Homo sapiens: one gene and its partners. The protein of the gene in region 1 interacts with the protein of each later gene in a biochemical or structural test. Each region holds a gene or a part of one and is shown in the gene's direction. Other genes may lie near its edges. The genes, in order: TOR1A, LMNA and TOR1AIP1.

The links.
Region 2: the proteins of TOR1A (region 1) and LMNA form a complex in vitro, tested with the Homo sapiens proteins (one study listed by BioGRID).
Region 3: the proteins of TOR1A (region 1) and TOR1AIP1 form a complex in vitro, tested with the Homo sapiens proteins (2 studies listed by BioGRID and IntAct).

Annotation. Positions count from the first base shown.
Region 1 is NC_000009.12:129,817,443-129,821,264, reverse strand, and holds part of TOR1A (torsin-1A precursor), read left to right. Parts: intron 1-2,344; coding exon 2,345-2,520; intron 2,521-2,617; coding exon 2,618-2,745; intron 2,746-3,822. UniProt on the Homo sapiens protein: Protein with chaperone functions important for the control of protein folding, processing, stability and localization as well as for the reduction of misfolded protein aggregates.
Region 2 is NC_000001.11:156,131,711-156,135,310, forward strand, and holds part of LMNA (lamin), read left to right. Parts: intron 1-2,692; coding exon 2,693-2,818; intron 2,819-3,094; coding exon 3,095-3,265; intron 3,266-3,476; coding exon 3,477-3,600.
Region 3 is NC_000001.11:179,880,757-179,884,578, forward strand, and holds the start of TOR1AIP1 (torsin-1A-interacting protein 1), read left to right. Parts: upstream 1-1,528; 5' UTR 1,529-1,559; coding exon of another isoform or gene 1,560-1,637; 5' UTR 1,638-1,746; coding exon 1,747-2,221; intron 2,222-3,822. Other genes in the region: uncharacterized LOC139427322, read left to right, coding at 1,560-1,637. UniProt on the Homo sapiens protein: Required for nuclear membrane integrity. Induces TOR1A and TOR1B ATPase activity and is required for their location on the nuclear membrane. Binds to A- and B-type lamins. Possible role in membrane attachment and assembly of the nuclear lamina.

The DNA of each region.
Region 1 (3,822 bases):
GGATCTTGATCTCGGCTCACCGCAAACTCTGCCTCCCGGATTCAAGTGATTCTGCTGCCTCAGCCTCCCAAGTAGCTGGTATTACAGGCACCTGCCACCACACCCAGCTAATTTTTGTATTTTTAATAGAGACAGGGTTTCACCTTGTTGGCCAGGCTGGTCTCAAACTCCTGACCTCAAGGTCATCCAGCTGTCTCTACTTCCCAAAGTGCTGAAATTACAGGTATGAGCCACCATGCCTGGCCTCAATCAGTTATTTATCCCTGACTGTATCTATGGAAAAATGTGAACACATTTTTCCCTTCTGTCTGGGTGAGCGTGTGGGTCACCCACTGTCCAGCGGTTCTGTACTAAAATGCGAATGTTCCACGGGTGTGGTGGCTCATGCCTATAATTCTAGCACTACGGGAAGCCAAAACCGGCTGATCCCTTGAGCTCAAGAGTTCCAGACCAGCCTGGGGAACATGGTGAAACCCCATCTCTACTAAAAAAATACAAAAAAATTAGTCAGGCATGGTGGCATGCACCTGTAGTCCCAGCTACTTAGGGGGCTGAGGCAGAAGGATGGCTTGAACCTGGGAGGTCGAGGCTGCAGTGAGCAGACAGCCACTGCAGTCCAGCCTGGGTGACGGAGTGAGACCCTGTCCCAAACAAACAAGAACCATTCTAGACGAATCAGGATAAGTTGATCATCTTAGAATTGAGGCTTCACTAACAATAACTGTGACTTTGGGCAAAGTTACTTCACTTGTCTGTGCCTCAGTTTTCTCATTTGTAAAAGAAGGAGCACAATGGTAACTACCGTGATGGGTTTTGGGAGGTCACAGTAAAATGTTCTATGAACAGACCAGGTGTGGTGGCTCGCGCCTGTAATCCCAGCACTTTGGGAGGCCGAAGCGGGTGGATCACAAGGTCAAGAGTTCAAGACCAGCCTGGCCAAGATGGTGAAACCCCATCTCTACTAAAAATACAAAAATTAGCTGGGCGTGGTGGCAGGTGCCTGTAGTCTCAGCTACTCAGGGGGCTGAGGCAAGGGAATCGCTTGAATCTGGGAGGCAGAGGTTGCAGTGAGCTGAGATCATGTCATTGCACTCCAGTCTGGGTAACAGAGCGAGACTGTCAAAAAAAAAAAGTTATATGAACAGTGCTTAGAATATTGTTGTTCCCATAGTGAACACTCAGTGCATGTTCCCTGTTATTGCATATAAGTTTGGTCACCAGAGTGAGAAACCTTGGCTGCTGGAGCCTAACAGGTCTGAGTGAATCCTTGTTTATTTTATTTATTTATTTTATTTTATTTTATTTATTTATTATTATTATTATTTTTTTTTTTTGAGACGGAGTCTTGCTCTGTCTCCCAGGCTGGAGTGCTGGAGTGCAGTGGGGTGATCTTAGCTCACTGCAACCTCCACCTCCCAGGTTCCAGCGATTCTCAAGCCTCAGCCTCCCAAGTACCTGGGATTACAGGCGCCTGCCACTATGCCTGGCTAATTTTTGTATTTTTTTTTTTAATGGAGTCTTGCTCTGTCGCCACGCTGGAGTGCAATGGCTTGATCTTGGCTCACCGCAACCTCCGCCTCCCAGGTTCATGCAATTCTACCTCAGCCTCCTGAGTAGCTGGGACTATAAGCACCTGCCACCATACCCAGCTAATTTTTTTGTATTTTTTTTAGTAGAGACCAGGTTTCACCATGTTGGCCAGGCTGGTCTTGAACTCCTGACCTCAGGTGATCCACCCACTTTGGCCTCCCAAAGTGCTGGGATTACAGGCATGAACCACCATGCCTGGCCCTAATTTTTGTATTTTAATAGAGATGGGGTTTCACCATGTTGGCCAGGCTGGTCTCAAACCCCTGACCTCAACTTATCCGTCTGCCTCAGCCTCCCAAAGTGCTGGGATTACAGGTGTGAGCCACCATGCCCGACCCCACCCCCTTTTTAAATAAAAATCAGTATCCTCATGACATCCCACATTGCCCCTTTGATGACAAAAGAGCAGCATCTCTGACAGCATCCGTGTGGCATCTCGCAGTGCGGGAACCGTAACCAAAGTATCGGGCTTTGGAGTGAGACAGGACTGGGTTCAGGTCCCAGCTCTGCCACATATAGTCTTGGGCAAGTGGAGTAAGCGCTCTCTGTGCCTCAGTTCCCTCATCTGTAAAATGAGAACGATAGTGCCCACTCCATGGGGTTGGTAGGAACAAAGAAGATTTTGGGCATGTAAAGTTCTTAGTGCCGAGTGCACAGTGGTCTGTAAGTGAAGCTGCGGTTCTTAGTGGTAGAAGGAGCTGATTGATGGCCCTGGCTGAGAACTTTGTGTTCGCTTTTTCCCCTTTTAATTCAGGATCAGTTACAGTTGTGGATTCGAGGCAACGTGAGTGCCTGTGCGAGGTCCATCTTCATATTTGATGAAATGGATAAGATGCATGCAGGCCTCATAGATGCCATCAAGCCTTTCCTCGACTATTATGACCTGGTGGATGGGGTCTCCTACCAGAAAGCCATGTTCATATTTCTCAGGTAAGGTCAGGGCTAGGACATGATGGATGGGCCCCGAGCCCAAGCCTCTGAGCTCCAGGAGAAAACCCTGTCCTTACCCACTGGGATTGTTTTGCAGCAATGCTGGAGCAGAAAGGATCACAGATGTGGCTTTGGATTTCTGGAGGAGTGGAAAGCAGAGGGAAGACATCAAGCTCAAAGACATTGAACACGCGTTGTCTGTGTCGGTTTTCAATAACAAGAACAGTGAGTAGGGCCATCCACCGCCAGTCCCATCTGGTTCCTAATCCTGCACCCTAAGTGTTAAAAGCATCAGGGTCACTGTCAGCATCACCTGGGAGCTGGGTAGAAAGAAATGCAGATTCTCAGTCCCCTTCCGAGTCATGAGGGGAATCTTTGCTGATGAACTCCAGGTAACTTTTATGAACACTAATGTTTGACAAGTGCTGTTTTATTTTTATTTTTCAGATAGTTTTACTCTGTCACCTAGGCTGGAGTGCAGTGGCGTAACCTTGCCTCACTGCAACCTCTGCCTCCCGGGCTCAAGCGATTCTTGTGCCTCAGCCTCCTGAGTAGCTGGGATTACAGGTGCACACCATGCCCAGCTAATATTTGTATTTTTAGTAGAGATGGGGTTTTGTCATGTTGGCCAGGCTGGTCTTGAACTCTTACCTCAGGTGATCCGCCCACCTCGGCCTCCCAAAGTGCTGGGATTACAGGCGTGAGCCACTGTGCTCAGCTTATTTTTTGAGACAGAGTCTCACTCTGTCACCCAGGCTGGAGTCCAGTGGTGTGATCTCAGCTCACTGGAGTCTTGACTTCCTAGGCTCAAGTGATCCTCCAGCCTCAGCTTCCCATGTAGGTGGAACCACAGGCTTGCGCCACCATGCCTGGCTAATTTTTTTTTTTTTTTTTTTTTTTTTTTTTGGTAGAGACTGGGTCTTCCTATGTTTCCCAGGCTGGTCTTGACTTCCTGGACTTAAGTCATCCTCCCGCCTCAGCCTCCCAAAGTGCTGGAATTATAGGCATGAGCTACATACCTGGCCTGCTGTTTTTTTTTTTTTTTTGAGATGGAGTCTCGCTCTGTTGCCCAGGCTGGAGTGCAGTGGCGCGATCTCGGCTCACTGCAAGCTCTGCCTCCCAGGTTCACACCATTCTCCTGCCTCAGCCTGCCGAGTAGCTGGGACTACAGGCACCTGCCACCACACTCGGCAAATTTTTTGTATTTTTAGTAGAAACGGGGTTTCACCATGTTAGCCAGGATGGTCTTATCTCCTGACCTCGTGATCCGCCTGCCTCGGCCTCCCAAAGTGCTGGGATTAC
Region 2 (3,600 bases), on another chromosome or scaffold:
AGGCCCTTGTGATTTCTCTGGGGAAAAGGAGGACTGGAGTTGATCATTTATTGAGGCCATCAGAAGCGGATGGCTAATTACATATGGGACATGTGTTAATAATGCTTTGTGTATATAGAGTGGCCTTTACTTTCAAAACACTCTTCTCCAATTTATCATGTTAAAAGCTAGGAATTGGGCTGGGTGCAGTGGCTCACGCCTATAATCCCAGCACTTTGGGAGGCCAAGGCGGGTGGATCATTTGAGGTCAGGAGTTTGAGACCAGTCTGACCAACATGGTTAAACTCCGTCTCTACTAAAAATACAAAATTAGCCAGGCGTGGTGGCACACACCTGTAGTCCCAACAACTACTTGTGAGGCTGAGGCAGGAAAATCATTTGAACCCAGGATCAGAGGTTGTGGTGAACTGAGATTGCACCATTGCACTCCAGCCTGGGCAACAAGAGCAAAACTCTATCTCAAAAAAAATAAAAAATAGCCAGGCACGGTGGCTCATGCCTGTAATCCTAGCACTTTGGGAGGCAGAGGTGGGCAGATCACCTGAGGTTAGGAGTTCGAGACTAGCCTGGCCAACATGGTGAAACCCCATCTCTACTACAAATACAAAAATTAGCTAGGCATGGTGGCAGCCACCTGTAATCCCAGCTACTTGGGAGGCTGAGGCAGGAGAATCGCTTGAACCCGGGAGGTGGAGGTTGCAGTGAGCCAAGATCGGGTCACAGCACTCCAGCCTAGGCAACAGAGCGAGACTCCATCTCAAAAAAACATAAATAAATAAAAATAAAAATAAATAATAAATAAAAGCTAAGAATCAAAGAAGCAGTTTATTCCTAATTTCACAGTCTCATCTGTTCATAGTGGGGCCAGGATTAGAGTCAGTGGCCAAGCTTCCATCCTGGGTTCTTTCCCTTCCCAGGCCCTACCATCATAGTATACCAGGGAAAGACCTGGAGAAGCCAGCAGGTTGACCACCGAACCAAGGCTGGGCCACCTTCCTCCTGGGTCTGGTCTCCAGCCTCCCAGTTGTACCCTTCCCCCAGCCCTTCCTGGATGCACTGATCAGCCTGTGCTTCCTTGCCCTGTTTTTCTTTATAAATAGAGCCATGTTCTCCTCTCTCTCTCTCTCTTTTTTTTTTTTTTTTTTTTGAGATGGAGTCTTACTCTGTCACCCAGGCTGGAGTGCAATGGCACGATCTCAGCTCACTGCAACCTCTGTCTCCCAGGTTCAAGCAATTCTCCTGCCTCAGCCTCCCGAGTAGCTGGGATTACAGGTGCCCACCACCATGCCCAGCTACTTTTTGGATTTTTAGTAGAGACAGGGTTTCACCATGTTGGTCAGGCTGGTCTTGAACTCCTGACCTTAGGTGTTCTGCCCGCCTCAGCCTCCCAAAGTGCTGGGATTACAGGCGTGAGCCACCACGCCTGGCAAGACGTGTTCTCTCTATGTTGTTGAGGCTGGTCTTGAACTCCTGGCTGCAAGAGATCTTCCTGCCTCAGCCTCCCAATGTGCTGGGATTATAGGCATGAGCCACCACACTTAGCCCAGCCTGTGCTTTCTTAAATGAAAATCTAAGCATACGGCTGGGTGTGGTGGCTCACGCCTGTAATCCCAGCATTTTGGGAGGCCAAGGTGGGCAGATCACGAGGTCAGGAGATCGAGACTATCCTGGCCAACATGGTGAAACCCTGTCTCTACTAAAGATACAAAAATTAGCTGGGTGTGGTGGCCCATGTCTGTAGTCCCAGCTACTCGGGAGACTGAGGCAGGAGAATGGCATGAACCTGGGAGGCAGAGCTTGCAGTGAGCTGAGATCGCGCCACTGCTCTCCAGCCTAGGTGACAGAGCGAGACTCCATCTCAAAAAAAAAATAAAAATAAAAAAAAGAAAATCTAAGCGTGGTGCTCCCCTGCTCAAACATCCTCAGGTTCTTTTCATGGCAGATAAGGGCATCTCTTCATGAGCCAGCCCCTGCCTACTGACCCAGCCACCTCTCCCATCCCTTCCCACCCCGTACTTCAGGCTTCAGCAGTACTGATCTTTCCAAAGACCCCAGAACACACATGCCTTCATACCTCTGTGCCTGTACATGCTTGTTTCTGCCCTTGAAATCATGACAGTAGCTCTCTGTAGGCCCCGCTAGCCTGTCCCTTGGGTCTTAGCCTCTTGGAGGCCTTCCCAGAGCCCCCCAAAAGTACCCCAGGCATACTTTGGTTCCTTCTCTCATGTCCCCTCAGTACTTTGCACATACCTCCTTTATAGCAGTTGCTATGTTGTGCCAGAGAAGGGAGTCCTGTGGCTGGGGGGCATATATCTTTTCTTTTTGAGACAGAGTCTAGCTGTGTCACCCAGGCTGGAGTGCAGTAGTGCGATCTCGGCTCACTGCAACCTCCACCTCCTGGATTCAAGCGATTCTTGTGCCTCAGCCTCCTGAGTAGCTGGGACTACAGGCGTGTGCCACCATCATGCCTGGCTACTTTTTTGTATTAGATATATATTTTCTCTCTTAGCACAGTACCTACCAAGAGTGAGTGAGTAGATGTCCTGACCCCTGCAGGCATCCAAGGCCCTCCTTCCCTGGACCTGTTTCCACATGTGTGAAGGGGTGCACAGGCAGCAGCCCACCTCTCAGCTTCCTTCCAGTTCTTGTGTTCTGTGACCCCTTTTCCTCATCTCTGCCTGCTTCCTCACAGCTTGAGGCAGCCCTAGGTGAGGCCAAGAAGCAACTTCAGGATGAGATGCTGCGGCGGGTGGATGCTGAGAACAGGCTGCAGACCATGAAGGAGGAACTGGACTTCCAGAAGAACATCTACAGTGAGGTGGGGACTGTGCTTTGCAAGCCAGAGGGCTGGGGCTGGGTGATGACAGACTTGGGCTGGGCTAGGGGGGACCAGCTGTGTGCAGAGCTCGCCTTCCTGAGTCCCTTGCCCTAGTGGACAGGGAGTTGGGGGTGGCCAGCACTCAGCTCCCAGGTTAAAGTGGGGCTGGTAGTGGCTCATGGAGTAGGGCTGGGCAGGGAGCCCCGCCCCTGGGTCTTGGCCTCCCAGGAACTAATTCTGATTTTGGTTTCTGTGTCCTTCCTCCAACCCTTCCAGGAGCTGCGTGAGACCAAGCGCCGTCATGAGACCCGACTGGTGGAGATTGACAATGGGAAGCAGCGTGAGTTTGAGAGCCGGCTGGCGGATGCGCTGCAGGAACTGCGGGCCCAGCATGAGGACCAGGTGGAGCAGTATAAGAAGGAGCTGGAGAAGACTTATTCTGCCAAGGTGCTTGCTCTCGATTGGTTCCCTCACTGCCTCTGCCCTTGGCAGCCCTACCCTTACCCACGCTGGGCTATGCCTTCTGGGGATCAGGCAGATGGTGGCAGGGAGCTCAGGGTGGCCCAGGACCTGGGGCTGTAGCAGTGATGCCCAACTCAGGCCTGTGCCTCCACCCCTCCCAGTCACCACAGTCCTAACCCTTTGTCCTCCCCTCCAGCTGGACAATGCCAGGCAGTCTGCTGAGAGGAACAGCAACCTGGTGGGGGCTGCCCACGAGGAGCTGCAGCAGTCGCGCATCCGCATCGACAGCCTCTCTGCCCAGCTCAGCCAGCTCCAGAAGC
Region 3 (3,822 bases), on another chromosome or scaffold:
TTATCTCACTCTAAAACTGTAATTCCTCCTGCCTGTGGCCAAATTTATGGACAATATTAGTAAAAACATAGTACACAGTCGGGCAGGGTGGCTCACGCCTGTAATCCCAGCACTTTGGGAGGCCGAGAGGCGGATCACGAGGTCAGGAGATCGAGACCATCCTGGCTAACACGGTGAAACCCTGTCTCTACTAAAAATACAAAAAAATTAGCCGGGCGTGGCGGCATGCGCCTGTAGTCCCAGCTGCTGGGGAGGCTGAAGCAGGAGAATGGCGTGAATCCGGGAGGCAGAGGTTGCAGTGAGCCGAGATCGCGCCACTGGACTCCAGCCTGGGTGACAGAGCAAGACTCCGTCTCAAAAAAAATAAAATAAAAATAAAAATAAAATAAAAACATAGTACACATTACGACTTAAGTAGTTGAAATTTGTGCCAAGTTTGAGCAACAAATGAGTTGCTCAAAAACATTTTAAGGTGATTACTTGGAAGAATAAACAAACACCTTCAAACTTTTCAGAATCGCTCATTGTAACTGGTATCCAAATTACAATTTTTTAAATCTATTCACTCCAATCATACAAAGCCCTACAAGCAGTTGTATATTTGAAGGCAATTTAAGCTTTCTTTCAATAATTATTCAGACTTTACACGAACTTAATCGACCTTCTCTGAATGTGTCTAAATTTGGTTAGGTATTTGCAGATTAGCCACATCTGTAAACATTTGTATAAGGAGGTGAAACAAATAGATTTTACCATGCTTTCTTATTCCATAAAGTCCATAAAGCATTCTAAATCAAATGTAGAGTATCACGTCACATCCAGAATAAAAGTAAAAATAATGGATCACAACTTAAAATTACAGTGCTGTCTTTAATTAAAAAACTTGTTCATTTCTCACTGTGCACAATGTAGCACTAACATGGTCTTCCGAACACTGCTGCTTGGTATAAAACCGAGAAATATTAAAGACCAGGAATAAGGTTATGTGTCCTATGGGTACATTTCGGAAAAGAAAATACATCCAACGAGTATGACTCTAGATAGGATTTTGTACACCCTCAACAAGTGACAAAATTCAAAACTAGGTAACCGCCCTCATAAGGTACTTGAAACTAAAATTTTTGCCACGAAAACATGGCATGTGCAAAAGTTCTCTCTCTGGCCATCACTCCTGCTAAGGACACTGGGAAGGACATGGTCAACGTAGCAGTCGATCAAAAAGATTCCAGGGAAACTGCGCAACAGCCTGGGGCCGAGAAGCGAAACTTGGGTCTTCTCCACCCTCGTCGCACTCCTTTTCCCCGAGACTTGGTACTGGGAGATAGGACGGGAGTCTCCTACACGCAGTCAACACTTGCCACGAGCGGCTAGACTTAGGACAGGCAAGTTGCCCTGCCATCCTTCTATCGCCCCCACCCCTCCTTTACTTAAGGGCGATGGCAGAGACGTCCTCCTCCCCCTTCTCCTCCTCTTTGGTGCCTCCAGCCAGGAGGCGGGAGCGATCCACAGCAGCTGACCCAGCTCAGGCACTGCCTCTCTCACAGCCCTCAAGACACACCATGGGCCCAGAGGCAGGTTTGCTACACAGCAGCGACGACGCAGGCGGCGGCCCCAGCGACTCGCAACTGCCTCCCTGACCACAGCGGCCACCGCCCAACACCCCCGAGAAGCCATCGCCACCACCGGCAGGAGAACCTAGGGTCCATAAAGCCATCTTCGCGATCGACTAAAGCTACGTCAACAACTATGGCGGGCGACGGGCGGCGGGCAGAGGCGGTGCGGGAAGGATGGGGTGTGTACGTCACCCCCAGGGCCCCCATCCGAGAGGGAAGGGGCCGGCTCGCCCCTCAAAATGGCGGCAGCAGCGATGCGCCTGCGTACAGAACTCCTCCGTCGCGCCAGGGCCGGCGGGAAGTGAGGTTCTCGGACGAGCCGCCAGAAGTGTACGGCGACTTCGAGCCCCTGGTGGCCAAAGAAAGGTCCCCGGTGGGAAAACGAACCCGGCTAGAAGAGTTCCGGTCCGATTCTGCGAAAGAGGAAGTGAGAGAAAGCGCGTACTACCTTCGGTCTAGGCAGCGGAGGCAGCCGCGACCCCAGGAAACCGAGGAAATGAAGACGCGAAGGACTACCCGCCTTCAGCAGCAGCACTCAGAGCAGCCTCCGCTACAGCCGTCTCCTGTTATGACCAGGAGAGGGCTGCGGGACTCTCATTCCTCTGAAGGTGAGGACCGCGGAGGTAACAGTCCCAGCCGCGAGCCAGGGAACGCGCGGGGGCGGGCGCGCGCCTCGGTGGAGCTCATGCCCGCCTGGGTACTAAGTACTGGGATTGGCTAAAGGGTATTCCTCAGCCCCCTCTGGACTTGTGCCGCCGTGCAAGGGCCACCCTGACCCGCAGCGGGGAAGGAAGCGCCGACCGGAGGAGTGGAAAGATGGTCGTGTGGAGCGACCCGGGCAGGGCTGGGGCGCTCTGCCCAACATCGGGCATCAATTTAGGGGAGTCAGAGCTGCCTTTTTCTGCAGGCCTTCACGAGGGGACAGCGAATTACTGCAGGGTCGGTTTCATTTCGGTTCCCTCTACCCTGCGGATGTTTCTACAGAAACCACTTCCATTTCCTTCTTTAACGCTCGCGGGCCAGAGTCCCCAGCTGAGGATCTAACCTTTCAGTCTTTTTCCCTCCTCACCCAGGTGGGCAGAGAGGAAGGAGAAATTTTGTGAGTGGGCATTTCGAGGGATTGCTGAGTTTAGTGAATTGATTTGAGACCTCACCCAATACTTTCACCGAAATGGGGTAACTCATTTTTCCTGAACTGATGTTCCCCAGTGTTTGATAACTTGAGCTGATTGCTGTTTCTCCAGTGTGGTGGTCCCTGCCAAAAATCTGCCACTTTGGTGGCCGTCACTGTAACCTCAAGTAGTCTGGCAAATCAGACTGACAAAGTAACCTGAAAAACAAGACTATTAATTAGAGTTTTCGTCTAAATGGACAAAAGGGATGCTGACAAAGTGAGTGTATAGTGTTAGGTAAGTCATAGGTGAATCAGTTTCCTTAATCTATCCTCTCCCACCCTGCCCCCCCCATTTTAGGACCTAACACTGAGTCACAGATGAAGTTTCATGTTAATCCCATGTAAGGCACCTGTGAGGTAAAAATCAGCGGACCTGAGTCACAATGGGATGACATAGTTTGTGGTAGACTATTGATAGGCGGAGGAGTGGGTTTTCAGCTTAGAGCACGGTGATAGGCTGCAAGTTTACCTGCTGACTCGTGAAGGTACTGACAGATTTGAAGACTTGATTTTGGAAACTTTATGTTAAAGTTATGTCAGTTATTTTTGGGTGTAGCAACTGAAGACAGTTTAGCCCATATATGTGTTAGTTTTATCTCTTTTAAGATTACAAAGTTTTTGCAGACAAGGAGCCTATAATATATTTGATAGTAATTTAAGTACTTGGTTTAATTCAGTATTTTTCAGTACCTGGAAGAATGCTTTGTACATGGTAGGCAAAAAATATGTTACATTGTATTGAGTTCCACAGAGCCTAGTGCAGTTATACAGGCTAACTTTTTTTTAACAAGTAAAGAATTTACCCCTATTTTATTAAATCTTTAAGGATCTAAACATTTTTCACTCTTCTGCTTTCTTCCACATCATTTGTGACTCTCTACCCCATCTTTTTGATTTTCTGAAGTAATATATTTTTGTAAAACAACAATGGCAAATATTATTATATTCTGTTGAATTCATTGTATTCTGTCTCAAGAGGAGTTCTGACTGGTATATTTCCTAAGTTTTGGTAAACCTAACCACCTGTTTCTAAAG